Linked DNA regions of Homo sapiens. The protein of the gene in region 4 interacts with the protein of the main gene of each other region in a biochemical or structural test. Each region holds a gene or a part of one and is shown on either strand. Other genes may lie near its edges.

Region 1 (8,254 bases), on a different chromosome or scaffold from region 4:
TGTTAAACTTTGTTTTGGTAAGTAGTAAAGTTGTGTATCAGCTTGATCTTTTCATGGCTTGTTTTTAAACTTCGTTAGGGCAAGTTTATCATATTCTAGAATTACCTCCTACATTTTGATATCTTTCTTGAATGCCTTATGCATTCAACAAATCAAAACTCAGATGTCTCCAAGTCCTGAGTAAGCTCTGGGAATTGTTCAGCTTACAGTTACCTAGTCATTCTTTGTTTAGACTTAAGGAGTTTCCTTTACATACGTGGCTTTTAATTTAGCCAAAGACTCAATGGGATCTCCAGGCAGAGTTGTGGATGTCTTTCTCTGGACAGCTTCCTCCTTCCTAGTATCCTGCCCCTCAGATTTCCATTGTTTCCTCTTCTCAACTCAGAGACTGCTGAGGTTTTGCTCAGGTTTTCCTTAGGAAAATGGCTTTGGGCAGAAAGCCAGTGCCAAGATAGGGCTCCCATCATTTGTTTCTGTTCTCTTAGGGCTGACCATCCTATGCTGCCTGTTACCTGGTATCTAAAAACAGTTGTTTCAGCCATTTTGTCCAGTTTTTTAGTTTTATGGCAGAAAGGTAAGTCTGGTCCCAGTTACTCCATCATGGCTGGAAGTAGAAGTCCCAAAATACTTTCAAAATATTGCTCTCTCTAGATCACTTTAATCTAATAAAACACTTTTTTCCCAGCTACAACTTTATGTTGGCTACAACTCAGCAGTTGTATGTCATTTGAAAAATATTTGTTTACTGAGTTGTTCAGATCTTCCAAATGTTAACATATCTTATTATAAAATACCCAAAAATACCACATTCCTTACTATCACCATCAGTCTCATCAGAAAATTCTAACTTATGGGAAACTCAGGCACACAAGTGGTAGGTACAAGTTTTCTAAAATTCTAATTTTTGCTAGAAAACTCGCATTTTATCATTAGTAACAAATACTGTTGGTTGTTTTTAATGAAGTGATAGGCCTACTTTGTTCATTTTTGAGAAAAACATCTGCCAAATACCCAACACTGAATAACTGTTATTTATGTTAGTCATTTTTTTTTTTTTTAGAAGAAAGAAGGTTCTATGAAAAAGCAGCCAGTTTAGCTTGTAATTTGTTCATACAGGTGTTACCTAGAGACAACCATTCTACTTTGGAATGCAGCAGAGAACACAAAATGTTCTTCCCATTTGTCACACAGAATATTAAAGTGTTTTGGACTTGACGGATTTAGTAAAATTTGTAATTTTTACTGCTTCATTAAGGGCATTCTTCCTTTTTTTCCACTGTAAGAGCCACCGCCTTCCTTCTTAGATGCCAGGTTTCCCAATCACTGCTTTGGCACAATCAGTGCAAATGTCAACACATTTTTTTTTTTTTAATAAAAAAGCACATAACTGACTCTTAGCATTGTTACGAAAATAGTTTTAACCTCATGAACCCTCTGAAAGGTTCTTGAGGACCCCCTAGGAATCCACAGACCACAATTTAAGAACTGCTGATCTAAGTGAAGAAACGAATGCAGCATATGTTTCTAATTTGTCTATATAATGCAAGTGCAGTTTTTAAAGGAAGTTGGAACAATAAGACAACACAAAAGGGACAGTTTGTCCTGTCTTACAGCCCCTCCTAGGACCATACACAGAGGAGCCTTTTCAGATTGGCTAAAGGGTCTGTTCTTGCCTTTAGGGAAGCTATTGCGATTGCCAAGGCCCGGCTGCGCCCGGAGGACCCAGTCCTGAAGGACTTGTACCTCAGCTGGGGAACCGTCCTAGAAAGAGATGGCCACTATGCTGTAGCTGCCAAATGGTAAGCCTGAGGAGTGGAGGGATGCTTCCAACATAGGAGAGCTTCTGCCAGGAAGGGGAGGACAAGAATACAAGTAATAAGTTTAGAGGTGGAGGTAAAGCAGCAAGGAATTATTTAAAAGATATGTATATTCAACTTAGTTTCATAAGACTCATCAGGAACTACTTCCTGATTTATTTATATAAATCACTATAACTATTCAAGAAAAACCTCAGCAGCAGATTAAGAAATTATGCATTTTTCTAATGGTCTCTTATAACATCAAATAAAGGAACCTCAACCCATGCTGGATTGAACCCAACAGAGGAGTCATTCCCTCTCATTTTCCTTATGTCCTTAACCTATATGATATTGTTTCTCATACACTCTGCTGAGTTGTGTTGGCCTCAGCCTTCACAGGAACAACCGGGGCAGTGACATACCTGGGACCACAGGAAGGCACATGCAGCAAAGTAGATAGAAAGAAATGATTCCATCCTCTAGGAATGGGAATAAAAATCTGTTTGTGACATTTTCTTCACATTTTTATTCATATTATAGCTATTTAGGGGCCACTTGTGCTTATGATGCAGCCAAAGTTTTGGCCAAAAAGGGGGATGCGGCATCACTTAGAACGGCTGCAGAGTTGGCTGCCATCGTAGGAGAGGATGAGTTGTCTGCTTCCCTGGCTCTCAGATGTGCCCAAGAGCTGCTTCTGGCCAACAACTGGGTGGGAGCCCAGGAAGCCCTGCAGCTGCATGAAAGTCTACAGGTCAGTCTGTTATTTCATCTCCTAGTATACAAGAGGGAAGTGTCCCAAATCCTTTTCTAGTCAAATCCAAGTTAATAACCCAGTTGCACAAGCTGTGCCAATTTGGCAGGCCCAGCAAGCCCTGGCCATGCTATCCCACTGAAGTACTATGACTTGTTAGTTGCCGTATTCAGAGTAAGAGATAATATGGTCATTCACAGTAATTCCCATTGCTTATCTGTTTGTACAAAACACCTGTGAGCCGGGCACAGTGGCTCATGCCTGTAATCCCAGCACTTTGGGAGGCCGAGGCAGGCAGATCACTTGAGGTCAGGAGTTTGAGACAAGCCTGGACAACATGGTGAAACCCCGTTTCAACTAAAAATACAAAAATTAGCCGAGCGTGGTGGCACGCTTCTGTAATCCTAGCTTACTTGGGAGGCTGAGGCAGGAGAATCACTTGAACCCGGAAGGCGGAGGTTGCAGCGAGCCAAGATCCAGCCTGGGCAACATAGTGGGACTCTGTCTCAAAAAAAAAAAAAAAAACACAAAAAAAAACACCTTAGTCAGCCCAGGCCTTGGGTTGGCAGTCTAGGGTTTCTTCATTGATGTTATCAGCACTGTCTTCCTTGAAGAGAGAATGGTTGGCCTCTAACAGAAATCATGGAACTCTACCTGTAAATGCCCCTCTTAACTGTAAGCTATGGAAAAAAAACTGGGCCAGATGCAGCAGATCGCTTGAGATTAGGAGTTCAAGACCAGCCTGGCCAACATGGCGAAATCTTGTCTCTACTAAAAATAAAAAAATTAGCCAGGCATGGTGGCACACATCTGTAATTTGGCTACTTGAGAGGCTAAGGCAGGAGAATTGCTTGAACCCAGGAGGCAGAGGTTGCAATGAACCAAGATTGTGTCACTGCACTGCAGCCTACGTGACAGAGTGAGACTCTTCAGAAAAAAAAGAGAAAAGTGTGGGAAAATGGAAATCTCTTTATTTCTTAAATTTTTTTGTTCCCATCTGATTAAAAATCAGTAACATACCACTGCCTTTTTGACACATCAAAACAGATTAAAGCATTGGCACACTTACCTAGTTTCTGAAACATGTAAACATTTGATTCACTTTAGATAACTTTGTGAGATACTAACAAGAGGTTTTTTAAGTTCTTCATTCTCTAACAGAGTACAGGGCCTACAGATGGTTTTTAGCTGAATATTTAGAGCCCAAGGAACGTGGTACATGGGGAGGTAGCTTTCTAGGAACAGCAGAATAAAAATGGAGGTGAAAATAGGACACCCTAAAAGATAATGCCACTGGGCATTATTTATAAAATGACCAAGTCTAGAAAGATTTTAATTTATCCACCATCAAAAAAAGTTTCCAGAATGACTGTTTAGCATTTTATTTTTCTCTTAAACAGCATCCTTAACAAAGCAAAAAAACCTAATAAGCATATGCTAAATATTCTGATAAGGGCTATTTTGGTTTTGTGCAACAGAGACTCTTGCAAGCTTAACTGAGAAGATATTGTTATAGGAGTACACAAGGAATCTCATGGCAACTAAAAATCTAGTGAAAGTAGATTTTCTAGGCCTTCTCTGTGCTTCTGTTTTCTTCTCTCCCAGCCAGCTTCCTCTATTAAACCTATTTGGACATGGCTCCTAATGCCTGTCCCAGCTCTTGGATCTGCAAAGCTTGTCTATTCCAGCACCTTTGGCCCATTATGCTTTTATTCCTGAGTCCAAAGTTTGGTCAGGGAGAAAGAACCTGATGAGCCCAGCCCTTCTTTTCCTCAAACTAGGCTACAAGGCTTAAGTGGCTGGTCTGTGTGTGGCTTAAATCATTGTGGGTAGTGCTACAGTTGGGATTCTGTGTTATAAAAATGGTTTCTTGAGCTCTAAGGATAGATTTCCCCCAAAAGGGACCTGGGAAGTGTCTGTCAGATCGCCCCTTTTGTCTCTTTTCATGCATGACTCATATGGGGCAGGTAGCTCACTAATGTGCTTTGGTTGCTGCAGATACAAAGGGAAATACTTTGAAGGACACGGGAGAGCTCTCGAGATCATCCAGTGCTTTCCCTGTATAACAGTTCCTCTTCCTTGTTGTCGTGTTCCAGGGTCAGAGATTGGTGTTTTGCCTTCTGGAGCTACTGTCCAGGCATCTGGAGGAAAAGCAGCTTTCAGAGGGCAAAAGCTCCTCCTCTTACCACACTTGGAACACGGGCACCGAAGGGCCTTTCGTGGAGAGGGTGACTGCAGTGTGGAAGAGCATCTTCAGCCTTGACACCCCTGAGCAGTATCAGGAAGCCTTTCAGAAGCTGCAGAACATCAAGTACCCATCTGCTACAAATAACACACCTGCCAAACAGGTAAGCCATCTGTACCAGCATTTGACATTAATCACTCAGTGGTAAGACTTCCTTAATCCATGTCTATTGTAACGGGGAAACAAGCAGAATACTGGACTGTGTTTCAGAAAAGGCTAAGGCATGGCCACGCCACCTGGAAAGATCCCTTTAGACTAATCAAAGCCCTTTAACTTTAAAGTTAGTATTAGATCAGTATTCCCTTTTTTGTTTTGTTTTTTTTAGTTGTTTGAAGCTGGAGTGCAGTGGCATGATCTTGGCTCACTGCAGCCGCCACCTCCCAGATTCAAGTGATTCTCCCGCCTCAGACTCCTAAGAGCTGTGATTACAGGCGTGCGCCACCACGCCCAGCCACTATTTCCTTTTCTAAAAAAGTAAAATAAAAAGTCTAGAAAATATAGAAAAGCAGAATAATGTAATAACCCATCAACCAGAATTAACAGATGTTCACATTTTGTCATTTTTACTTTGTAGGGTTTTCTGGTTTCATTTTGTATTTTGATTTGAGGACTTTATAAAATAAAAACAGTAGGGCAAAGTTGAAGTCCTTCTTGTTCCTTTCCTCAGCCCTTCACTCCTTCCCTAGCTCGCCACAGGCACCTCCTGTGTCAGTGCCACATGTATTGTTTTGCTGTTTGCTTATTTCAGAGGCCATTGTTTGTAAAATCTATCCATGTTGATAAAAAGAGATCAGTTGATTTATTTTAACTGCTATGTCTGCCTTGTGAATATACCTACTTCTTTTTTTTTTTTTTTTTCCTTTCTGGAGACTGGGTCTCACTGTTACCCAGGCTGGTCTCGAATTCCTCAAGTGATCCTCCCGCCTCAGCCTCCCAAAGTACTGGGATTACAGGCATGAGCCACTGTGCCTGGCGTAGTTCTTTCCCTCATTTCAAAATGAGGGAACATTATGATATTTATGAGGAACAAGGCTTCTCAAATGGTATATACTTTGAAAAACAATTGGACAGTTTCTTTTTTTCTTTTCTTTTTTCCTTTTCTTTTCTTTCTTTTTGAGGCGGAATTTCACTCTTGTTGCTCAGGCTGGAGTACAGTGGCATGATATCTGCTCACTGCAACCTCCGCCTCCCAGGTTCAAGCAATTCTCCTGCCTCAGCCTTCCAAGTAGCTGGGATTACAGGCATGTGCCACCACGCCCAGCTAATATTTTTACTTTTTTTTTTTTTTTAGATGGAGTCTCACTCTGTCACCCGGGCTGGAGTACAGTGGCATGATCTTGGCTCACTGCAATCTCCGCCTCCCAGGTTCAAGCAATTCTCTTGCCTCAGCCTCCCGGGTAGCTGGGATTACAGGCACCTGCCACCATGCCCGGCTAATTTTTTGTATTTTTAGTAGAGACAGGGGTTTCACCATGTTGGCCAGGCTGGTCTCGAACTCCTGACCTCGTGATTTGCCCACTTCGGCCTCCCAAAGTGCTGGGATTATAGGCATGAGCCACTGCAGCCAGCCTATTTTTCAGATTTTTAGTAGAGACAGGGTTTCACCATGTTGGCCAGGCTGGTCTTGAACTTCTGACCTCATGTGATCCACCTGCCTCGGCCTCCCAAAGTGCTGTGATTACAAGTGTGAGCCATCACGCCTGGCCAGGCAGTTTCTTATAAAGTTAAACATGCACATGCCCCATGTCTCAGCAGTTCTGCTACCTAGATATTCCACTAAAACAATGAAATCAGATGGCCACACAAAGACTTGTACACAAATGTTTACAGCAGCTTAGTGCACAGTAGCCAAAAACTAGAAACAACCCAAATGTCCATCAACTGATGAATGGATATGCAAACTGTGTTGTGTCTATGCAGTGAAATACTATACTGTTTAACAATAAAAAGGGCCAGTCTTGGTGGCTCACACCTGTAATCCCAGCACTTTGGGAGGCCAACGCGGGTGGATCGCTTGAGCTCAGGAGTTTGAGACCAGCCTGGGCAACATGGCAAAAACCTGTCTCTAGTAAAAATACAAAAATTAGCCGGGTGTGGTAGCACAAGCCTGTAATCCCAGGTACTAGGGTGGCTAAGGCAGGAGAATCATTCAAATCTGGGAGACGGAGGCTGCAGTGAGCCAAGATGGAACCACTGCACTACAGCCTGGGTAAGAGAATGAGACCCTGTCTCAAAAAAAGAAAGTAAAAAGGAACAAATTACTGCCACACAAATAATATCGGTGTTAGCCGCGCGTGGTGGCGGGCTCCTGTAGTCCCAGCCACTCTGGAGGCTGAGGCAAGAGAATGGTGTGAACCCAGGAGGCCAAGCTTACAGTGAGCCGAGATCGTGCCACTGCACTCCAGCCTGGGCGACAGAGCAAGACTCCATCTCAAAAAAACAAAGAAGAAGAAGAAGAATATCGGTGAATCTCAAAAGCTTTAAAGACACAAAAGACTATATACTCTGTGGTTCCATTTATATGAATTCTAGAAAAGAAAAAATTAAAGTGACAACCAGTTCAGTGGTTGCCAGTGGGGTGGGGCCAGGAGATCGCCTGCAGAGGAGCCGGAGGGCATATCTTCAGTTGATGAAAATGTTCTGTCTTGATTTTGCTGGTAGTGTTGTAACTATATATGTTTCTCAAACTACATACTTAAAATTGAGCACATTTTTCTTAGTTGTACTCCAAGCTTTGTTTTGTTTTGTTTTTGGTGGGTTTTGATTTTTTTTTTTTGAGACAGCGTCTCACTCTGTCACCCAGGCTCGGGTGTAGTGGCTTACTGCAACCTCCGCCTCTCGGGTTCAAGCAATTCTTCCGCCTCAGCCTCCCAAGTAGCTGGGATTACAGGCGTGCACCACCAAGCCCGGCTAATTTTTTTTTTTTTTTTTTTTTTTTTAGAGACGGGCTTTCACCTCGGGTGATCCGCCCGCCTCAGCCTCCCAAAGTGATGGGGTTATAGGTGTGAGCAACTGCACCCAGCCTTTATTTTGTTTTTAATTACAGCTTTTAGTTCCAGAAACTCACTTTTTGTTTTTGTTGTTTGTTTGTTTGTTTTGAGAGGGAGTCTCACTCTCATGCTCAGACTGGAGTGCAGTGGCGCAATCTCAGCTCACCACAACCTCCACCTTCCGGGTTCAAGCAATTCTTCTGTCTCAGCCTCCCGAGTAGCTGGGACTACAGGCACGCGCCATCATGCCTGGCTAATTTTTGTGTTTTTAGTAGAGGCGGGGTTTCACCATGTTGGCCAGGCTGGTCTTGAACTCCTGACCTTGTGATCTGCCCACCTTGGCCTCCCAAAGTGCTGGGATTACAGGCATGAGCCACCGCGCCTGGCCCACTTTTTGTTTTAATTAAATGCAAATGTAAAGGTGTTTTCTCAGTGTGAACAGACTTTAACACCGGGACGTGTGTGTGCT
Region 2 (8,412 bases), on a different chromosome or scaffold from region 4:
CCCTTCCCCAGGTCTTGGGGAAAGTGTTAGGAGACCGAGAGCCTGGGAAATCCAGGGCATCCCCTGCCCCACTCCCACCTGCCCCGGGAGGGGTGCCTCAGTCTCCCTGTCCCTCTGGCTGGGGCTCTGGCCGCCTGGGCTCCCCCACCCTGTCACTGATTCATCCTTCCTTCCCCAGCAGCTCCCCAGCCCACCCCCTTCCCCTGGCTCCACTGCAGCACAATGGTTTGGCAGCTTTCAGATTCCATGACACACTCACTCCCTGCCTCCCGGTGCTTTCTCTCAAACACACAGGCTCCAACACTTTCACACAGTCTGGATGCCCCAGTGCCCCCAGCCTCTCACAACCCCGACAGCCTCCAAAGCTCACACGCCCAGAAGTACTTCTTGCAAACTGGAGCCAGACCCCTGGGCAGGAAGCCTTGAGGCTGCAGGGGTTGGGGGGGGCGGTGTGTATATGGGGAGGGTGGTCATTCATATTTGCTGGAGAGGGAAGTTTCTCCCCAGCAACTGGCCCTGGGCCAGACAGCAAGTGGTCCAGGCTTGGGGCAGGAGAAGGGCAGTGGGGCCCCAAGTCCCACTCTGGAAGCAATGACCTCCCTCTCCCTCCTCCCTCTCGGAGGCCAGGCAGAGGAGAGGAGCTCAGCGCCACCAGGGCTCACCAAGCCACTTCTCCATCTGCCTAGGGATACCCCCAAAGGAGTGGGAGGAGCCAGACAGCTAGTTCCCGAGGCCACCCCAGGCCTCAAATGGAGGGGGAGGAGAGGGCTGGGCCTAGGGAGGTGCTGGGACAGCTGCTGCCCCCTCCCGCCCCTCCCTTGGTTGTTGGCTCCAGGAGAAGGAATAGCAACTGGGGAACAGCTGCGAGACAGAGCTGCCTCATAGGCCTCTTTGTTCGGAGGGAACGAGGGGCAACGGGGGGCCAGGACAAGGTGGTGAGGATATGAAGGGCACAGCTCCTTTAACCTGGGCTCAGTGCCCCTTCTTCAGGTGGGCTTGGATCCCAGCTGCTACTCCAGACCCTGACTTCCCTCCTGGAAAGAGAAGTGGGGAGTCTTTCTGACACCCCCTGAGGTGCCCAGATGCTCGATTTCGGTGCTGAGACAATACTCAGAAGGTGGCCCCATGGATAGCCCCTTTCCACCACTAAATGGAGTAGGGGAGCTAGCAGAAGCAGGATGCCCCTGCCTCGTGGGCAGCCCCTTTGAACCTCCTCATGGTGGGGCGCCCCAGCTGGTCGCTGCCGGTGTCCCCTCCCCTCCAGCCTCAGCCTGGGGCCGGCAGCTGAATTGCTGACAGCTTATCTCATCAGCGCCAGTGAGCCACTTGGCCCAAATGGGGACTGCCTCCCCTTCCTCCCAGCGGGAACCAGGGAGCTTCCCTCCCACCCTCAAACCAGCTTTTGCTTCTTCCCCTCTGCTCTGAGCCAGCCCCTCCTCTGCTGAGCCAAGGGGGCTGGAGCCAGGCACCGCCACGGGGGAGGGGAGAGGTGTGCTCAGGAAGGACGAGGCCTGGAGAGGGGCCGAGAGCCCCCGCAGACTGGAGGGGAGGGGAAGGCTGAGCGGTTTCCTATATGTCTTGCCGAAGCCTCCGGCTCTTCCCCCAGACCCCACCTGGTACAGTCAGTCCTGCCTTTCAAAACCCAGCCTGCTGAGGATGCCGGCCCAGGACTGACTCCTCTCTGACCCCTCAGCCTCCATCACGTAGCCCTCAGTCTCACTACACACTCCAGGCTCCCTCCCCCACCCCCTGCCCTCAGCCTTGTCCTTCTGGAAAGCTCAGAGACATCTGCTGTGTCACGGAGGCAGGGCTATTTCCAGGACAGGGCAGGCGGGTGGGGTGGGGGGGCAGTATTGGGGCAGGAGGGGGTAAGGGCTAGGGAGGGGACTGGACGGGGCAAAGGGCCCTGGGCTGACCTCAGCTGCTATATCAGGAGGCCTAGAGATGGCCCCAAGGGAGAGTGGGGCTGACAGACATCAAGTCATCTGGAGAAATCTCAGGGAACATCCTGTGTGGGGCCCACCTGGCCCCACATGAAACTCCCCTCCTGGGGCCGTGGGGTGCACCGTCCAAGGACCTCGTCCTGCAAATCCCAGCAGGGTTCTTAAGAGCTCTCCACAGGGGTGGGCGGGGGGATCTTCCCCAGGCCCCCAGCCTCAGGGATGACTGCAGGACTCTGAGGGCAGGACAGCCTCCTGCCACTCCAAGCCCACCCTTGGCGTCTCTGCTCCCAAGACTAGAGTGCCTCCCCGCCCCCACCCTGCACTACACACCTTCCAAATCTGGTTACACTCAAAGACTTCCTCCCTTCCACAGGCCTTTCCCTCCCTCCCCGCAGCCCAGACCGTTAGCTGCAGCCAATCCCGCGGTAGGGGGTGGGCTGGGGCAGGGCCTGGACTTGCGGAAGCCCCCTCCACCGCAGGCTGAAGCAGGAGGAGGACAGACAGGGGTTAAGTCTCCCCGCGCTCGCTCAGTGCCTTTTTAGGTTTCTGAGGCTGGGCCCTGCCTGTCCTGGCCCCCGGGCCTGAACCCAGCTGCTGAGCACATGCACGAAGAGGGCCTCCCGCGCCAGCTCCCCTCGGCCCCAGAGCCCGCAGACGCGGGCAGTGGTTGGGGACCTGTCTTCAGCCCTCTCCCAGCCCGCGGAGGGGCTGTGAAGCTGGGAAGCCACTTGTTTTGTTGGGGGCGGGGAGATGCCCCCAGGAATCAGTGACAGGCACTGGTTCTGTCCTCCCGAGTGTGGGCTAGGGTTGCCCGATGGAAGGAAAGGGAACGGTGAGCCGAGGCGGGAGGTGGGAATGTGCATGGGGAGGCGGCAGCTGGAGGGCTCGCAAACCCTAAGGCCTGGACTCCCCGGGGCACCCAGGGAGTGCTCGCTGTCCCCAGAGGGGTGTGCAGGCAGTGCCCATGGCCCTTGTCGATGGGTGGGAGGGCCGGGGCCAGGGTCTTCTCTCTATACCGGGGGGTGCCCTCCGCCCTGTCTCTCAGCTCCCCGCGCGCCCACCCCGCACCTGTGCCCCTGCCCCATGGGACGACCCTATCCCCGCAGCGCCCGTGCCCTCGCCCCCGGCACTGACCTATGGACACGAGCTTGATGTGCTCGCGCTCGAGGAACTCGAGGGCCACGGACACGTTCTCCAGCTTCATTTGGCGGAAGTTGGGGCGCGGATGGAACTTGCGGTACATGCGCTTCTGGCTGAGCACCTCGAGCAGCGCGATGAGCCGGAGCCCGTCGCTGAGGTCGCGCTGCAGGTCGGTCAGGCGCTTGCCCACGCACTTGAGGTGCTCATTGCACCAGCGCGTGAATGTGTTCTGCTGGATCTTCTTCCACGGCGCGTCCTCCGCCAGGTCCTTCTCCGTGGACGGCATCTCGTCTGTCTCATCGCCCAGGCCGAGGCCGGCGTCTGAGTAGCCGCTGTTGTTCATCATGCTGGCGCGGGCTGGGGGTGCGGCCGGGGCTAGGGCCGCGGTTTGGGCTATCGGGGGCTGTCGGGCGCTGTTGGGGCGCGACCACGGGACTCGCTGCGCTGCGCTGCTCTCCTCTCCAACTTCTCTCGCGCCGGGGCTGGCGGGGCTCGGCGAGGCTCGGCGGGCCTCCTAGGCGCTCGGCCGCTCTCTGGCTCTCTCTCCCTCCAGGGCCGGAGCGGTGCTCGGGAAGGGCGGGCTGGGCCGGGGCGGGGGGTTTAAGAAGCCCCCGGACCGCCGCCCCCCCGCCGCGCCCGCGGCCCCCGGGTCCACGTCAGAGCGCCGGCCTCCCAGGAATGCCGCCCGGCCCGCGGGTGGGGGCCGCGCCGCACAGGACGCCCCGCCCCCGCCGCCCCTCCCCCGCGCCGCCCGGGCGGCGGGACGGGGTTGAGGGCGCCCACCCCCTGGGCCCCCGGTGCCGCCGCGCTGGAAGGTGGCGGGGAGGGCCGACAGTTCTCCATCCACACCCAACACACCAAACTGTCAGGAATGAAATATGCTCCCTCCACACCCCGCACGGGCTGAAGAGGTAAATGGGGAAACTGAGGCCAGTGATTAGGGCAAAACCCACTGATCTGGTGTTCACAGAATTTTCTAGACTAGTTGGTGGCAGGCTGTTGACAGGGCCTGCGAGGGCTGGCTCCTAGCCCAGGGCATTGTCCACCTGTGGACAGGGAAGGGAAGTGTGTGTGCTTGTGCAGAGACGGCCTGAGAGGAAGCAGGGACCTTGCCCGGGCCAATGAAGGAGAAGCCTGCGGGGGGGCGGGGGGTTGTGTGTGCCTCCCAGCCATTGCTTGACTTTACAGATAGAAAAGCCTCATGTAGGGCCCAAATCCAGAGGCCCAGGAGTAAGACCGGGGCCCCTGCCCCTGACTCAGTGTCCCTGTCACCAGCCCGTTTGGCCTCATCGCCTCGGTATGAAGCTGAGCTCAGGAAAAGGGTACCCAGTGACTCACACTGTGTATCCCCCTCCCCCAAGTCTGACTCAACTGAGATGATAAGAGGGGAAGGAGAGACTCTTCCCCCATAGTGCCAGGGAGCCCCCTGGGCAACATGCCCATTTGGGCCACAGGGCAGATCCTGCCAGGGAAAGGGTGGGTCAGCCAGGCAGAAACAGGGAGAGCCCCAGCCAGAGCAGCCAGGGGGAAATGTGACCAGGTGGGTAGGCAGGACCAGGGGCAGAGTGGTCAGGGAGAGCCTAAGGGAGCCAGCTGGGATGCCCAGGCAAAGCTGCACTCAGGGCAAGCCAAAGGCTGCAGGCCTGGGGAATAGAACAGCAGGGAAACCGAGGCACCCAAACAGACTCTGGCCTGGGGTGAGGAGAAAGAGCTAGAGAACGTATTTCTTTTTCTTTTTTCTTTTTTTTTTTTTTTTTTTTTTGAGATGGAGTTTTGCTCTTGTTACCCAGGCTGGAGTGCAATGGCATGATCTCTGCTCACCGCAACCTCTGTCTCCCAGGTTCAAGCAATTCTCCTGCCTTAGCCTCCCAAATAGCTGGGATTACAGGCATGCACCACCACGCCCAGCTAATTTTGTATTTTTAGTAGAAACGGGGTTTCTCCATGTTGGTCAGGCTGGTCTCGAACTCCCGACCTCAGGTGATCTGCACGCCTCAGCCTCCCAAAGTGCTGGGATTACAGGCGTGAGCCACCGTGCTGGGCCTAGAGAATGTATTTCTATAAGGAGAGGATCCATTCTGCAACTTTGTAACATACGTGCAGCCATATCTCCCAGTTCCCCCTTTTTCAAGCCATGTGTCTTCAGCTTTCCCATCCTTCTAGACCTAGTAAGTCTAGCTGAGCTGGCTAGGAGGCCATATCTGAGCCTGAGAAGTTTCTTTAAGCCAGGGAAGGTTCTGGGCCCTTTTAGATGAATCATTATATCTAATTCCTCTTCTACCCCTAGACCTGGTGTAAAAGAAGGGATAGTGAGCATCTTTGGGGGCTCTTTCCCCCAAGGGCCAATGAGGGCACCCCCTGTTACGGAGCTGAGGAAAAAGTGTCAGGGTTCTGTGGGGGCAATGCTTATGATGACAGGGGTCTATGAATGAAATTGCCTGGTCCTTAGGTAGGGAGGGGGAGGAGTAGAGAAGGGACCAGAAAGAGCAAAAGGACCTGCTGTGTGTGGCTGGAGGTGGGGGGAGCTGTGGGGACCCTGATAGTGACAGGCGAGGTATAAATAGCCTGGGCCCTGCGGCTCATGTTCTGTCGGCTGCCTGTGACGAGGTGCTCAGGAATTCCACTCTCCTATTGGCAACCCCTTCTCCCTATCTCTAGAACTCTCATTCTCCCCAAGCCACCTTCAACTCATGGCTAAATCCACCCATCAGGCACCCGTGCTGTCCATACACTTGAGAGGCTGAGCTCTGCTGTGGAGAGAGGCCCCGCTCCTAGGACACGCAGCTGGGCCTCACAAGGGAACTGTGTATGTACAAAGGCCGACTTCTGACAGCCAACCTGATGTGCCAAGGGCTCAGGGTTCAGCAGTGCTGCCTCTGAATCCCTGGTGAGTAAACTGAGACACAGATCTGAGAAAGGATGCATTCCTCTTTGAGCTGCTGGGGAGGAGAAAGGGTTAAGGTGAGGTAGCTCGGAGCTGACAGCCCCTTTACAGACCCTAATGGTCCACAGTCCTGTTTTGCAGGCATTATCTGAGGTCCCCCAGCCAGCTGAGCGCCTCTGTTCAGGTGGAGAGGCCGGAGGAAGCCAGGGAGGGGAGAAGGAACTCCCAGCGTAGCTTCCCTTGCTTTCCCTCTGACTCAAGAGCTCGCTCCAGGGGAGGTCAGTGTGCGGGTCCCAGGGGATCAAGTGAATGGTTGGCAGAGGAGAGGAGGGTACAGAGTGCCAAAGGATGATTCCCGTCACCCCCCGCAACCGTCCTCAGAAACCTGAGCCTGTTGCTCTCCAGGATAAATCGGGGCCTGACTCAGGCCCCAGCAGCCAGTGACACTCAGCCTGACCCAGGCGCGGGCTGGTGACTCAGCCCTCAATATAGCCCATGAGCCCAGGCCCTGGGCCTGGCCAGCCAGGCTGGAACAGACCGTGCACAATGCTGGGCCCGGCCTGCCAAGTAGGGCCCCCTCCCCGAGGAGCGCTGACATGCTCCTCCCCAAGCCAGGCAGGGGCACACAGGGGGTTACAAGGGGTTTCATCAGCTGAGTATCTGGGCAGTGCTGGCTGGGGCCACAGGCTGTTTATAGCCCCCTGACTCACCACCTGCTGACCTATCTCAGGAGACCAGGTTGCCTGGCTCTTCACCTGGTCCTGCCTCTGCCGTCAAGGGGCTCTGCTCATCAGCCACCAATACTGGCCATATTTATCTTGGGCTGAGCTGAATCCAAGTGAGCGGATACAATGAGCCATGTTTGAAAATCCTGTTTTTCTGGAACCAGGGACATTTCCACAGTCACCTGTGATGATACTGGGCTGGCCAGGTCATAACAGGCACTTTCAGTGATACTGATACTGACTGTGGCTCTGACCCAGGTTCCAGGGACAGTGTGGTAGAGTGGAATGATCCATGGGCTGAATTCCAGCCTCTCTACTTCTAGCTCTGCAACCTTGGGCAAGTAATGTAGCTCTTTTGGGCCTGTTTTCTCGTCTTTTTTTTTTTTTAATGTGTGAAAATGGAAGGAAATCACAAGAAAGATGATTAGCATGGTGCCTGGCATCTAATAGGTGATCCAAAACAATTAGTTTGCTTCCTCTGATTATCTTGGAGACTAAGGGGTTCTGGTGAGAGAGGCCTTCCCCTGCAGCTCTGTGTCCACACCTCCGTGGGGACCACTGCCTGGATCTCCAGGCTGTTCCCCTCTCCCCTTCCCTGCAACCCAACATTCCCTCTGCCACAATCAGAACCGGCAGTACCTGTCATCTTTAGAACCACCCACCCTGCCCCAAAAGCAGCTGGTCCTTGACAGGAGTGGCAGCGGGTGGCTGCTCTACCTCTTGGCCTGGGAAGGGAAACCAGACAGGGCTAGGCTGCAGGGAGCTCACAGAAAGGAGGCAGTTATGCAGAGGGCAGCAGCGGGGAGAGATGGAGGCTCCTGAAGGTGCTTTGAGTCCCTGGTTCTAGCACACCTAGGCCCAAGTGCACGCCTGCCTGTGGCTTCCAAGGCATACCCCTCCAGACTTAAGATCAATCCCTCCTGTCTTTTTTTTTTTTGGTATAAATTTAGAGGGTGCAAGTGCAGTTTTGATACATGGATATATTGCTTAGTGTGAAGTCTGGGCTTCTAGTGTAACATCACCCAAATAATGTACATTGTACCCATTAAGTAATTTCTCATCCCTCCCCTCGCCCCATGCCCCGACCGCCCCCCTACCCCTCGCCGCTCCAAAGTCTCCAATGTCCATCAGTTCACATTCTATGTCCCTGTGTGCACATTATACACATTCTTTAACTCCACATTTTTTTTTTAAAGACGGAGTCTTGCTCTGTCACCCAGGCTGGAGTGCAGTGGCACAATCTTGGCTCACTGCAACCTCCACCTCCTAGGTTCAAGCGATTCTCCTGCCTCAGCCTCCCGAGTAGCTAGGATTACAGGCACCTGCCACCACGCCCAGCTAATTTTTGTATTTTTAGTAGAGACGGGGTTTCCTCATGTTGACCAGGCTTGTCTTGAACTCCTGACCTTGTGATCCACCCACCTTGGCCTCTCAAAGTGCTGGGATTACAGGCGTGAACCACTGCGCCCGGCTTTAACTCCACTTATAAATGAGAATATCCTACTGCCTTTTTTTTAAGCTAGCTCAAGTGAATGTTTCACATTCAACAAAAAAGATTCCTCTTAAAAAAAAAAAGATTCCTCTTTAATACGCCTGGGTAACAGTGTATCATTAAGACAAGGAGACAGTCCAAACCAAATGAAGAGAATGGGATTCTAAAATGAACGGAGGGCCGGGTGCAGTGGCTCACACCTGTAATCCCAGCACTTTGGGAGGCCGA
Region 3 (4,229 bases), about 31 Mb from region 4:
CCCTGGGAGAAAGCAGACACCTCACTGCTTTCTGAGGCGGGGTAAGAAAGCCTGAGGAGGGTCATAGTGATACCAGGGTCTGTCTTTCACTAGGAAAACTCAAGGCTAAATCTGGACTCTGTGTGACAGAACGAGGCCGGCAAGTGAGCCACACAGATCTTTCTGGGCTAAAATATAGGGATGCTCACCTTGTTCAGGTCTGGGATCCCAGGCTCCTCAGCCGCACGAGGGCGAGACTTCTGGAGTGCGTCTTTGGGGAGAAGGGCCTCTAAGGGCAGAGTGGGCTGGGCTGGGCTGAGCTGAGCTGGGCGGTGGTGGGGAGAAGCACCGCCTGGGGCCGGCAACCGGCCGGAGTCCTAGGGGAACGAATGTGCCGCACTGGAGAGTGGGGATAGTAAGGACGCTGACCTCCCCGAAGGGCCAAGCCGATTCCTGGGCTACATGGGGGCTCTGCCATGGGCCGACCGGGTGGAAGCGGACGGAGAAGGTGTGACTTCATTAAGGGAGGATTTCAAGTCCCACCACACACCCCTAGAGGCCGTTAGTCAAGCTTGGTACCCGTGCGGGGGGCGCCTGTGTGTTGGGCGAGGAGGCGGCAACAGGAGGTGTCTTGACCTCCGAAAGGTAAAGTAGGTATAAAGGGTCTAGGGAGGGCCTTACCCGCGGACGACTGCAGCGACAGAAACGGAAGAGAGTGGAATCGAAAATGCGGGAGCGAACACTCCCCTCAAGCTTTGACTCAGTGCCCAGGGAAGTCCCGCCCCAGCCCCTAAGGGCCCACCCCCCCGTCCCCCGGTCCGCCCCTTCGCCACGCAGCAGCCTGAGACGCTGCCAGCTCTTCAAACGTTACCCGAGGGCCCGGACGCTGCTTCCGCAAGGACTAGCCAGTCCGGGTAGGAATTTCCAAGAACATTTATTTCACCATTCTTTAGGTGGTTATGTACAAGTACATACATAACCAGGAGAGCAACCCGGGCCCTCCTGGCCCTCGATTATAAAACTCCGATGGTCAAGACAGGTCCCACCCATCAACCCAATTACACCCTGCCGCTCCACCTTCTACCCGGAAGCCCCGATTAAAACGTTTTAAATAATGAACGGCCTGGCTGGCTTGCAGTTTGAATCCTGGTTTATTTAAGTAGCATTCAGGAGTTATACTGTAAATAAACATCATTATGGCTAATGACTAATTAAAATCACCATTCATTACAAATACCAACCAGGTTAGATAATACTATTAACTATCTTTTCCCCTTCGGTCTGGGGTTCATATTCTTCCTTTTCTGGAAGTCATTTTCATGGATAAAATATTTAGCATTTTTTGTTACCTCTTCCTTCACCAACTGTACTCAACACACTTCTGTAAACAGAGTGAGAACCTGGGTTCATGGACAAGCTCTTTTCCACTTATCTTCGGGTTAAACCAAAACTTTTTCAGCAACTTTGCCCCTGTCCAAGTTTTGCAGAACACCAGCTGCCTCTTCCTGTTCTAGGCATTCTAGGGCTAGATACCTGTGAACGGACTTCAAGCATTAAAGAAGTCATCAGCATTTCCTATACCTCACACACACTCATTTGCCCACCCTGAACTTCACTGACATTAATTTAGGAGCCTGCCTTTTGCCTTTCACATGTTTCTATTTCCCCCACTGTACTGTAAAATAAGATCTGCCCTGACATTAAGAAAAAAGGCAACTGTTAAATTTACTTTTCCCTTTAAATAACGGGATTTTTTCCTTTTCTATAAGATTAGCAAAATATTTCACAATACCTATATTTTTTCCCTTAAATAAAAATGTATGCAAAATTACTATAATAGACATTGCTCAATAGGTGCTGGTAGGTTTATCAGCACACTCTTCCTCCTTTCATTGAAATGCGGAGATTCCCTTGAAGTTGGATACTCTTGAATGCACCATGGAGTCTTTAGAAAGCAACGGTGCCAATTATTAAGTATTGCAGGAAAATTACTTTCTCCTTGAGAGAGGAAGAGTAACAACATTTCTATCATGCTCTGGGTGTTATTTCAATGCCAAATAACTATGAAGCTTGAGGTGGATTACAGAAATTATGAGAATAAGAATTATGAGAATAATTCTTAAAAACAACTTCCGAGGTTAATGTCTTTCAAAACCTGAAAATTAACAGATATCCCCATAAAAAATCCACATTAGCCAAAGAAAAATACTCAGTTTCAATAAAAGCAGAAAGAAAAATGGTTCTATATGAAGTTGAAGTTACACTTGTCAATGCACTAAAATAGTTTTATCCAAATCAACTGAAAAACTGTCTTCATACTATTCATCCAATGTCTAAAGTGAAAATTTAAGTTCTGGTCTTTAGTTTGCTCCCCAAAATACTGTAGCAGGTATTGTCTTGGTAACTCAACGATGGGCTCTATACAGATTCATCAGATTAAAAATAAGCAAGGGCTTCTATCCCATACCCCAATGACAGAATAAAGATCATCTCTGAGCAGCAGGCAGTTATTTAATACAAGGTCACTCCTCAATAGCGTTGGCTGTACCAGTCGTTGTTGTTTAACTGAAGAAGTTCTGTCACAACCTGCAGGATATTGTAATTGTGTTTCTTCAGCAGCCGTAGGTTCAGCTGCCTGTCACAGAATCCCATTTCAAAGAGATGGGCCATCAGGGCTGCTGTCTGATCTTCAGAAATTATTGGCTGTGTAGAGACAAGCAAAGCAAAAAAAAAAAAAAAAATTCTGTATAATTTAAATGTTTATTTTATACATTTGTATCATCTTGCAAGCATACTAGTCTTTCCAGATTTATTCAAAGTACTAGGTAATTAGATTCAAGGCTATGGCACTCCTGTGTACTTGATACCAACGGTTCGGACTGGGAAGGCCCTATTTTAGATTAGTTATCTGTGTACTTGAAGGAGGAGAAAAGGGAAACCGGGGAGCTAATGAACTGTACTTAGAACCAGGAGAATGCTTCACTCGGGGCTTTCAGGAAGAAGCATTTTTTGGCCAGATGAAGGAATGACAGCAAGCCCCAGAGACCCTGTGAACATAAGTGTAATTGTGATGATGGGGGAAGTATGAGCAAGATAAAAGTGTTACTGAAAGATGCTATGGGAAATTTTGTCAGATATGCAGAGGAGCTGGACAAAAAAAACAGCTTGGGAAATTACAACCTGGGAAGGCTTCTTGATTTTTTCTCCTCCAAAAGAATAGGTAAGAGGGGCTGGGTGCGGTGGCTCACACCTGTAATCCCAGCACTTTGGGAGGCTGAGGCGGGCGGATCATGAGGTCAGGAGATTGAGACCATCCTGGCTAACACAGTGAAACCCCATCTCTACTAAAAATACAAAAAATTAGCCAGGCGTGGTGGCAGGCGCCTGTAGTCCCAGCTACTCGGGAGGCTGAGGCAGGACAACGGCGTGAACCCAGGAGGTGGAGCTTGCAGTGAGCCGAGATCGCGCCATTGCACTCCAGCCTGGGTGACAGAGCGAGACTCCATCTCAAAAAAAAAAAAACAAGAATAGGTAAGAGGAAGTTAACATTCATTCATTCAAGCCCTGTGGTGGAAGCATTACCTTCCTAAATCCTTAAACGCTTGTTTTGTTGTTGTTGTTGTTTTGTTTGTTTTTTGAGACAGGGTGTCACTCTGTTCCCCAGGCTGGTGTGCAGTGGTGTGAACACAGCTCATTGCAGCCTCAACCTCCTGGGCTCAAGTGATCCTCCTGCCTCAGCCTTCCAAATAGCTGGGACCACTGGTCTGCGCTACCACGCCCGGCAAATTTTTAAATTTTTTACTAGAGATGAGGTTTCCCTATGTTGCCCAGGCTGGTCTTGAACTTCTGGGCCCAAGTGATCCTTGAACTTTGGTCTCCCAAAATGCTGGGATTATAGATGTGAGCCACCTCGCCTGGCCTCTGGTTCTGTTATTATCCCAATTTCACAGACTGGGGATACTGAAACTGTGCAGCAGAAAGATTATTAACTTGGGAGGCAGATAGGCTTAGACTCAAACCCTAATCTTCCATTTACTTACCAACTGTGCTATCAATTCCTTTATGAACTGAAGATATATCATACCTCCTACTTTGCAGGGTTGTTGAAAAAGTATGTAAAGATGAGAACAGTATGCAAACATGTTAAGCATTTCCCTCCAAACCTGATTCCACTGTTCCATTCTACCTTCTTATTTCAGAATAGATTATCCATCCTCCTTTGCAGGTTAATGGAATGTACCTTGCATTGT
Region 4 (8,254 bases):
TATTTAGGACAGAGTCTGGCTCTGTCGCACAGGCTGGAGTGCAGTGGCATGATCTTGGCTCACTGCAGCCTCCACCTCCCAGGTTCAAGTGATTCTCCTGTCTCAGCCTCCTGAGTAGCTGGGACTACAGGCACGCACCACCACTCCCAGCTAATTTTTGTATTTTTAGTACAGACAGGGTTTTGCCACGTTGGCCAGGCTAGTCTCGAACTCCTGACCTCAGGTGATCCGCCTGCCTCAGCCTCCCAAAGTTCTGGCATTACAGGGGTGAACCATCGTGCCCCACCTAAAGTCCCTCTTAAAATGTAAAAGAGTTGGTGCAAAACTGAGGAATCCATGGAGCTCTGAAGTTGACTGAAATTCAGGGAGGGAGATTATGGGAGAGAAGGAAGAGTCAAAGTAAATTAAAGGATAACCCAAGCAAATGTAGATTTGCCATCTAAATTCATATTGAATATGGTAAAAATACTTAGAGAATTTAATTTTAAGAAAAATTACTTTTCAGAGTCCCTGGTTGGAAAGATATGCTCCTCTTGCCCCCAGTTGATGGGCAGAAGCAAAAGCAAATCATTCAGCCTAGGACTAAATGATTCCAAAAAATAAAGTCAAGTGGAATATGTAGTCCACAAAAAAATCTCAACACTCACAAAAGAAATGAGAATCAGAAACAATGGATAGTAGGAATAGATCTGCAAAGGCTTCAAATATTGGAATGAAAGGAAACAAAAAATAAGTTTAAAGAAAAAGAGGCAGCTTAGAAATATAAGCAGGGAACACATTTATAAAGAACCAAATAGAACTTCTAGAAATAAAAAGCATAAATTAAAACAATAGCTGCATTCAACAGATTAGATATCATTGAAGAGAGATTAATGAACTAGAAGACAGAGCTGAAGCTCTCCCAATAAAACTTTTTGAGATGCTGGAAATGTCCTATAATCTGCTCTGTCTAGTGTGGTAGCTGCTGGCATTTGAAATGTGGCTAATGTAACTAAGGAAATGCATTTTTTATTGGAATTAAGTTTGCTAACGGCTACCTTATTAGATAGTCTAAGGGGAGCTAATATAATTATTGATAACATTATTAGTGTCAGCTGTAATTCAGAAAAAGAAGACAGTCAATGTTAATAGTTTAAGATTTCAACCCAAATAGCATCATAAGTTTATACACTGACATAATTTTCTGCTCCAGTAGATGAAATAGAAAAACACAAAACCAGAAAGGTATGGCAGCTTTACAAAGAAAGCAAACCTCTGTGTGGGTGAAAAAATGCAACAAAAATACTGACAGAATGCTGTGTAGATCTGATGCCATGGACTTGCTGTATTCCAGGTCATTTTTCATTCTGGAGAATGAAAAAAATGATATCAGTTACTTCCTGGGCCACAGCTTTAAGCAAGCTATGGTACTACACAATGACAAGGCTTTAGATACTGGTTTTGCAACCAGAGGACTGGAACTGTAATTGTCCTAATACCAACATAGGAGTGGAACTTGAAAGGTCCATTACAGGACCCTGTTTGATACTGGTGGCCCTGTGAAATAGAGGCAACTGTAAAACTGCTCTATGTGTGTATCCCTGGCTCCCAGTTCAGTTCATAGTGATTAGTGGGGCACTCAGACATATGTTGAACAAATGAATGGATATGCATGGAGGGTAAACATGTTATTTCAAAATGAGTCTGCAAATCATAATTCTTGAATACTGAAGTGTAATGCTAAGAAAGCATTTAACAAAATGGAACAGAAACTTACTTTAAGTTGAAATAGATTTATGAAATTGTCTGAAATATGCTGTAAAAGAAAATCAGTATATTTAGGATGCTCAAGGAAATAAAGGTATAAATTCAATTAAAACTGAGGAAGAAATAAAGTGGTTGGAAATAGAAGTCTTGGAAATGGAAAAATCATAGCTGTTGATATAAAAGACACAACAGACTTGATGTTCTCTAGACTGGAAATAATTGAAGACAAAATTAGGGAAATAGGAGCTGAGACGTTCCCCCAGCATGGCACAGATTATATGAAAAGCAGTGAAGAATCAGAACAGATTGCAGAGTTAGAGGTTCTAAGATGCATGTAATGGAAATAAAGAAGGCAACTCTGAAAGTGGAGAAGCAATGTTTACAGAGATCATAGGGGAAAGAAAACATTTGAGAACTGATTTAGTATAGGTTTTCAGATTGAAAGTGAAGTCTCTTTATCATGTAGGATAAACAAAGGTATAAGCTTAAAGGTAAATTTAAATATAAATTTAAAAGTAAATTTTAATTGATATTCTGTAGTTTTGCTTCAGTGCATAAATGATAAACAAAGGTATAAATTTACCTTTTAAATTTATATTTAAATTTACCTTTAAATTTATACCTTTGTTTATCATCATTTATGTATTGAAGCAAAATTACCGAGCAATATCAGGAAGAGAAAACAGATTATCTGTTAAGGATTGATAATAAGACTAACAGCAGATTTGTTCCCAGCCACAATAGTTGCAGGAAAAAGTGGAGTCACAGCACCAGAGTGCTGAGGGAAAATAATTGTCAGCCTGGTCCTAAAGTTTTAGACTCAGACACTCAAATATTCACAGTAAGGAAGAAATACAGTTTTAGGAATGGGAAGACTGAGCACTTACAATTTATAGACTGCTTTGATCCTTGAATGGTGTGGAGGTTAGGGATGCTGACCCCCTGTACAGTCAAAAATCCGCATATAACTTTTGATTACCCCAAAACTTGACTACTAACAAATAGCCTACTGTCAACCAGAAGCCTTACTGATAACATAGTTAACATATATTTTGTATATGTATTATATACTGTATTATTACAATGAAGTAAGCTAGAGAAAAGAAAATGTTATTAAGAAAATCATAAGGAAGAGAAAATATATTATTTATGAAGTGGAAGTGGATCATCATAAAGATCTTCATCCTTGTCTTCACATTGAATAGACTGAGGAAGAGGAGGAGTTGGTCTTGCTATCTCGGGTGGCAGAGGCAGAAGAAAAATCCATGTATAAGTGGATTTGTACAGTTGAAATCTGTGTTGCTCAAGGGCCATCTGTACTTGACCAAGAAGAGAAGTTAACCCAGAAGAAGGATGTCACAGGTTGGATGCCTGGAAAGCAGGCTTTTGAGACAGAGATAAGAGTGTAGGAAGTTGACTAGGTAGTGATCTTGGGATCAACACTACCAATGAGAAGGAAACGAGATTGGGCAGAAGAAGTTCAGTTGCAGTGCCATGTCATTGAAGGCCTCAGCCAACTCTGTGTTGACCTGCCTTGGAATGAGGGTCTTGGATTTTTATTCACTTTTGTGGATCAGTCATTAGAGATGGACTGTCCCAGGAGGGCTAAGGTGGCTGTCTTTAGCTGTGGTAATCCTGAAGAGGCCGATAGTAAAGGGTTGTCTGCTGGCGGCTTGCCCCACAGTGGAAGAATAAGTCCTTCCTTCTTAAAGAGGGAATCTACATAGCACATTGCAGTATCTGTTACAGAAGGTGTGGGATATGGAAAACAGCAATGAGTTTAGAAAGAGGTGAACTATGTTACCCATATTAATTCATGTTTGATAGTAAAATATTAATTGAGGTTGGAAGGGAATGGTGATTAAGATATGGGCCAAGATAGATGAGGTAAATATAAACAAAATGAAAATACTTTTGGCAGCTTTAATTAGGCAAGGTAGAATTCAAGGAGAAAATGTCAACAGAGCAGACATTTTTATATACTGATGTAGTCTTCAGTGAAGTTATATTGTTTTAAACTTTTGGACCAAAGAACATATTGAGATACAGAGTATAAACTTTTTTAAAACTTAAGGATAAATTGATAAAAATGTATATGTAATTTATCTCCCAGAATTACTTGATTGCTGGTTTCTCTTGGGTAGTATCTGCATAAATATCTGTCTACTTATTTATTTACATTTAGAAAAGCATATATGTACACAAATAATTTTATACTTATAAAACATTTATATATTTAACTGTAGTATTCTGTGTAGCTATGCCATAATTTAGTCAATTTTCAAGAATTAATATTTTTTCTAATTTTTAACTAATCATCCTACACTGACTATCCTAGAGATAAATCTTCAGATTATAGACTCACAATTTTTTGTATGTGCTTTTACTGTGTTTAGCAGGCTGTCTGCGTTGTTACTTTGGATCTGAAGGAAAGAACTATTTCATTATTTGTAATATTTCATCTGTGAAAAGAAAAATACTTAGGCAAATGAATCTACATTTTAATAATGTTATTTTTATGTTATTTTAGCCTTACGAAGGATGAATCCAAAAGGCCAAAGTATAAAGAGCTTCTGGTGAGTGTGGGACTGTGGGGATTGTAGGTACATCCTAACCCCGGAACTCTCTTAACATGCTGGTTCACTAAGCAAGCAGTGGGCCTCTCTGTCATAAACAAACATCTCAAATTTATTGAGTGTTTTTTGTTAATGTTTTTACACAAAGATTTGGAAAGAGAAAATTTGCAGTTATAATTTTTCTACTAATACTAGCTAAATTCTCATGGAAAATTTTGGTCTTAACATGTTATAAAAATTACCCCCAAAGAATTCTGACTTTAAGAAGCCATTTTCCACTGCATAGTCTATTTATATGGGATGCAGCCATAAGAAAAAAATTAGTGAAAATTTGTGTTTATTCTGCCTTTATAAAATTCATGCAAATTTACGTCATATAGCCTATTCCCATTTCTTTGAAAGTTCTCATTCATCCCATGGAACTTGGGTGTTTTAAGCAGTCTACTGGGTATGGCATTGGTGGGGCAGGGAGAAAGTGTTGTGATCTAATAATGTGGGAATATTTTAAGAAAAGATCCATTTGTTTGTCACATTTAACTACTAGCTCTTCAAGGATGTTGTGACAAACTTATATCACAGTCCACCAATGACTGTAAAAATATCTAGTCAACATACTTAGTCTGTAAAAGAAAACTGTTGCTAGAGATGGAGTTTTAAAAGGTGGGTTAGTGAAGCAGATACTGGGACCCTGGCTCTGGAGAGTACAGGGAAGAAGCTCCTGGGGCAAATTTCTCTTGGGCCTCTTTTGGTCAAAAGAATTACAGCCTTTTTGTTAAAAGGTCAAAAGAAGAGGTCAAAAGGATTGCGACCTTTTTGTAAAAAGGTCCTCCTGTTGTATATAGGAGAAATGGAGGTTGAGATTTATATTGGTGTCCCAAGAGGAATAGTGACTGGCATTTGCGTCATTCTTCTTAGCTCTTAGATGGTGTGGTGGAGGCTCCAGCTATGTTTTGTGCTGAGTGACAACTTGGCTGTCTTCCTCAACAAACACTCCCTGGTATACAGATGAGTTTCCAGACCTCACTGCCAAGGTGGCACCTTCAGATCATTACCACGTATCCTCTCTCTAGGCATGCCCATGCCCATTAGCATATCTGCATGGAATAAAGGCTGTACTCGCCTCTCTGAACTTGTAGTGTTGCGGTATTTCATAGCTATGTGTGGTTGGGAGCCTGGAGTTCTATGTTCTATAGAAATTGGAAAATGTTCAGTTTGGGCTGTCATACAAACTTTTGACTTTTTTGTTTTCAATTTTCTTGCAGAAACATCCCTTTATTTTGATGTATGAAGAACGTGCCGTTGAGGTCGCATGCTATGTTTGTAAAATCCTGGATCAAATGCCAGCTACTCCCAGCTCTCCCATGTATGTCGATTGATATCGCTGCTACATCAGACTCTAGAAAAAAGGGCTGAGAGGAAGCAAGACGTAAAGAATTTTCATCCCGTATCACAGTGTTTTTATTGCTCGCCCAGACACCATGTGCAATAAGATTGGTGTTCGTTTCCATCATGTCTGTATACTCCTGTCACCTAGAACGTGCATCCTTGTAATACCTGATTGATCACACAGTGTTAGTGCTGGTCAGAGAGACCTCATCCTGCTCTTTTGTGATGAACATATTCATGAAATGTGGAAGTCAGTACGATCAAGTTGTTGACTGTGATTAGATCACATCTTAAATTCATTTCTAGACTCAAAACCTGGAGATGCAGCTACTGGAATGGTGTTTTGTCAGACTTCCAAATCCTGGAAGGACACAGTGATGAATGTACTATGTCTGAACATAGAAACTCGGGCTTGAGTGAGAAGAGCTTGCACAGCCAACGAGACACATTGCCTTCTGGAGCTGGGAGACAAAGGAGGAATTTACTTTCTTCACCAAGTGCAATAGATTACTGATGTGATATTCTGTTGCTTTACAGTTACAGTTGATGTTTGGGGATCGATGTGCTCAGCCAAATTTCCTGTTTGAAATATCATGTTAAATTAGAATGAATTTATCTTTACCAAAAACCATGTTGCGTTCAAAGAGGTGAACATTAAAATATAGAGACAGGACAGAATGTGTTCTTTTCTCCTTTACCAGTCCTATTTTTCAATGGGAAGACTCAGGAGTCTGCCACTTGTCAAAGAAGGTGCTGATCCTAAGAATTTTTCATTCTCAGAATTCGGTGTGCTGCCAACTTGATGTTCCACCTGCCACAAACCACCAGGACTGAAAGAAGAAAACAGTACAGAAGGCAAAGTTTACAGATGTTTTTAATTCTAGTATTTTATCTGGAACAACTTGTAGCAGCTATATATTTCCCCTTGGTCCCAAGCCTGATACTTTAGCCATCATAACTCACTAACAGGGAGAAGTAGCTAGTAGCAATGTGCCTTGATTGATTAGATAAAGATTTCTAGTAGGCAGCAAAAGACCAAATCTCAGTTGTTTGCTTCTTGCCATCACTGGTCCAGGTCTTCAGTTTCCGAATCTCTTTCCCTTCCCCTGTGGTCTATTGTCGCTATGTGACTTGCGCTTAATCCAATATTTTGCCTTTTTTCTATATCAAAAAACCTTTACAGTTAGCAGGGATGTTCCTTACCAAGGATTTTTAGCCCCAAATCTCTCATATTCGCTAGTGTTTAAAAGGCTAAGAATAGTGGGGCCCAGCCGATGTGGTAGGTGATAAAGAGGCATCTTTTCTAGAGACACATTGGACCAGATGAGGATCCGAAACGGCAGCCTTTACGTTCATCACCTGCTAGAACCTCTCGTAGTCCATCACCATTTCTTGGCATTGGAATTCTACTGGAAAAAAATACAAAAAGCAAAACAAAACCCTCAGCACTGTTACAAGAGGCCATTTAAGTATCTTGTGCTTCTTCACTTACCCATTAGCCAGGTTCTCATTAGGTTTTGCTTGGGCCTCCCTGGCACTGAACCTTAGGCTTTGTATGACAGTGAAGCAGCACTGTGAGTGGTTCAAGCACACTGGAATATAAAACAGTCATGGCCTGAGATGCAGGTGATGCCATTACAGAACCAAATCGTGGCACGTATTGCTGTGTCTCCTCTCAGAGTGACAGTCATAAATACTGTCAAACAATAAAGGGAGAATGGTGCTGTTTAAAGTCACATCCCTGTAAATTGCAGAATTCAAAAGTGATTATCTCTTTGATCTACTTGCCTCATTTCCCTATCTTCTCCCCCACGGTATCCTAAACTTTAGACTTCCCACTGTTCTGAAAGGAGACATTGCTCTATGTCTGCCTTCGACCACAGCAAGCCATCATCCTCCATTGCTCCCGGGGACTCAAGAGGAATCTGTTTCTCTGCTGTCAACTTCCCATCTGGCTCAGCATAGGGTCACTTTGCCATTATGCAAATGGAGATAAAAGCAATTCTGACTGTCCAGGAGCTAATCTGACCGTTCTATTGTGTGGATGACCACATAAGAAGGCAATTTTAGTGTATTAATCATAGATTATTATAAACTATAAACTTAAGGGCAAGGAGTTTATTACAATGTATCTTTATTAAAACAAAAGGGTGTATAGTGTTCACAAACTGTGAAAATAGTGTAAGAACTGTACATTGTGAGCTCTGGTTATTTTTCTCTTGTACCATAGAAAAATGTATAAAAATTATCAAAAAGCTAATGTGCAGGGATATTGCCTTATTTGTCTGTAAAAAATGGAGCTCAGTAACATAACTGCTTCTTGGAGCTTTGGAATATTTTATCCTGTATTCTTGTTTGAATTCCTCCTCTATTTAAGATATATACATGGAATCGAAGTGTTTATGTAATAGTTCTATCCTTTTGCCTGCAGGTCAGTTGTAATAAATCTAGGATGTGATGATGACTTTGTAATTTGATTTTCTGAAATCAGACCCTGAGAGGGGAAAATCTTAAAGTAAATTACATTAAATTATCTGTGCATTTCA

Evidence for each region.
Region 1: the proteins of MAP2K4 (region 4) and GEMIN5 form a complex in vitro, tested with the Homo sapiens proteins (one study listed by BioGRID).
Region 2: the proteins of MAP2K4 (region 4) and FLNC form a complex in vitro, tested with the Homo sapiens proteins (one study listed by BioGRID).
Region 3: the proteins of MAP2K4 (region 4) and NBR1 form a complex in vitro, tested with the Homo sapiens proteins (one study listed by BioGRID).

The regions. Positions count from the first base shown.
Region 1 is NC_000005.10:154,892,736-154,900,989, reverse strand, and holds part of GEMIN5 (gem-associated protein 5), read left to right. Parts: intron 1-1,679; coding exon 1,680-1,799; intron 1,800-2,339; coding exon 2,340-2,550; intron 2,551-4,646; coding exon 4,647-4,898; intron 4,899-8,254. UniProt on the Homo sapiens protein: The SMN complex catalyzes the assembly of small nuclear ribonucleoproteins (snRNPs), the building blocks of the spliceosome, and thereby plays an important role in the splicing of cellular pre-mRNAs.
Region 2 is NC_000007.14:128,825,655-128,834,066, reverse strand, and holds the start of FLNC (filamin-C), read right to left. Parts: upstream 3,662-8,412; 5' UTR 3,430-3,661; coding exon 3,078-3,429; intron 1-3,077.
Region 3 is NC_000017.11:43,208,354-43,212,582, reverse strand, and holds the end of NBR1 (next to BRCA1 gene 1 protein), read right to left. Parts: intron 3,027-4,229; coding exon of another isoform or gene 2,940-3,026; exon of another isoform or gene 2,721-2,939; intron 2,683-2,720; coding exon 2,509-2,682; 3' UTR 895-2,508; downstream 1-894. UniProt on the Homo sapiens protein: Ubiquitin-binding autophagy adapter that participates in different processes including host defense or intracellular homeostasis.
Region 4 is NC_000017.11:12,135,563-12,143,816, forward strand, and holds part of MAP2K4 (dual specificity mitogen-activated protein kinase kinase 4), read left to right. Parts: intron 1-4,276; coding exon 4,277-4,322; intron 4,323-5,584; coding exon 5,585-5,698; 3' UTR 5,699-8,254. UniProt on the Homo sapiens protein: Dual specificity protein kinase which acts as an essential component of the MAP kinase signal transduction pathway. Essential component of the stress-activated protein kinase/c-Jun N-terminal kinase (SAP/JNK) signaling pathway.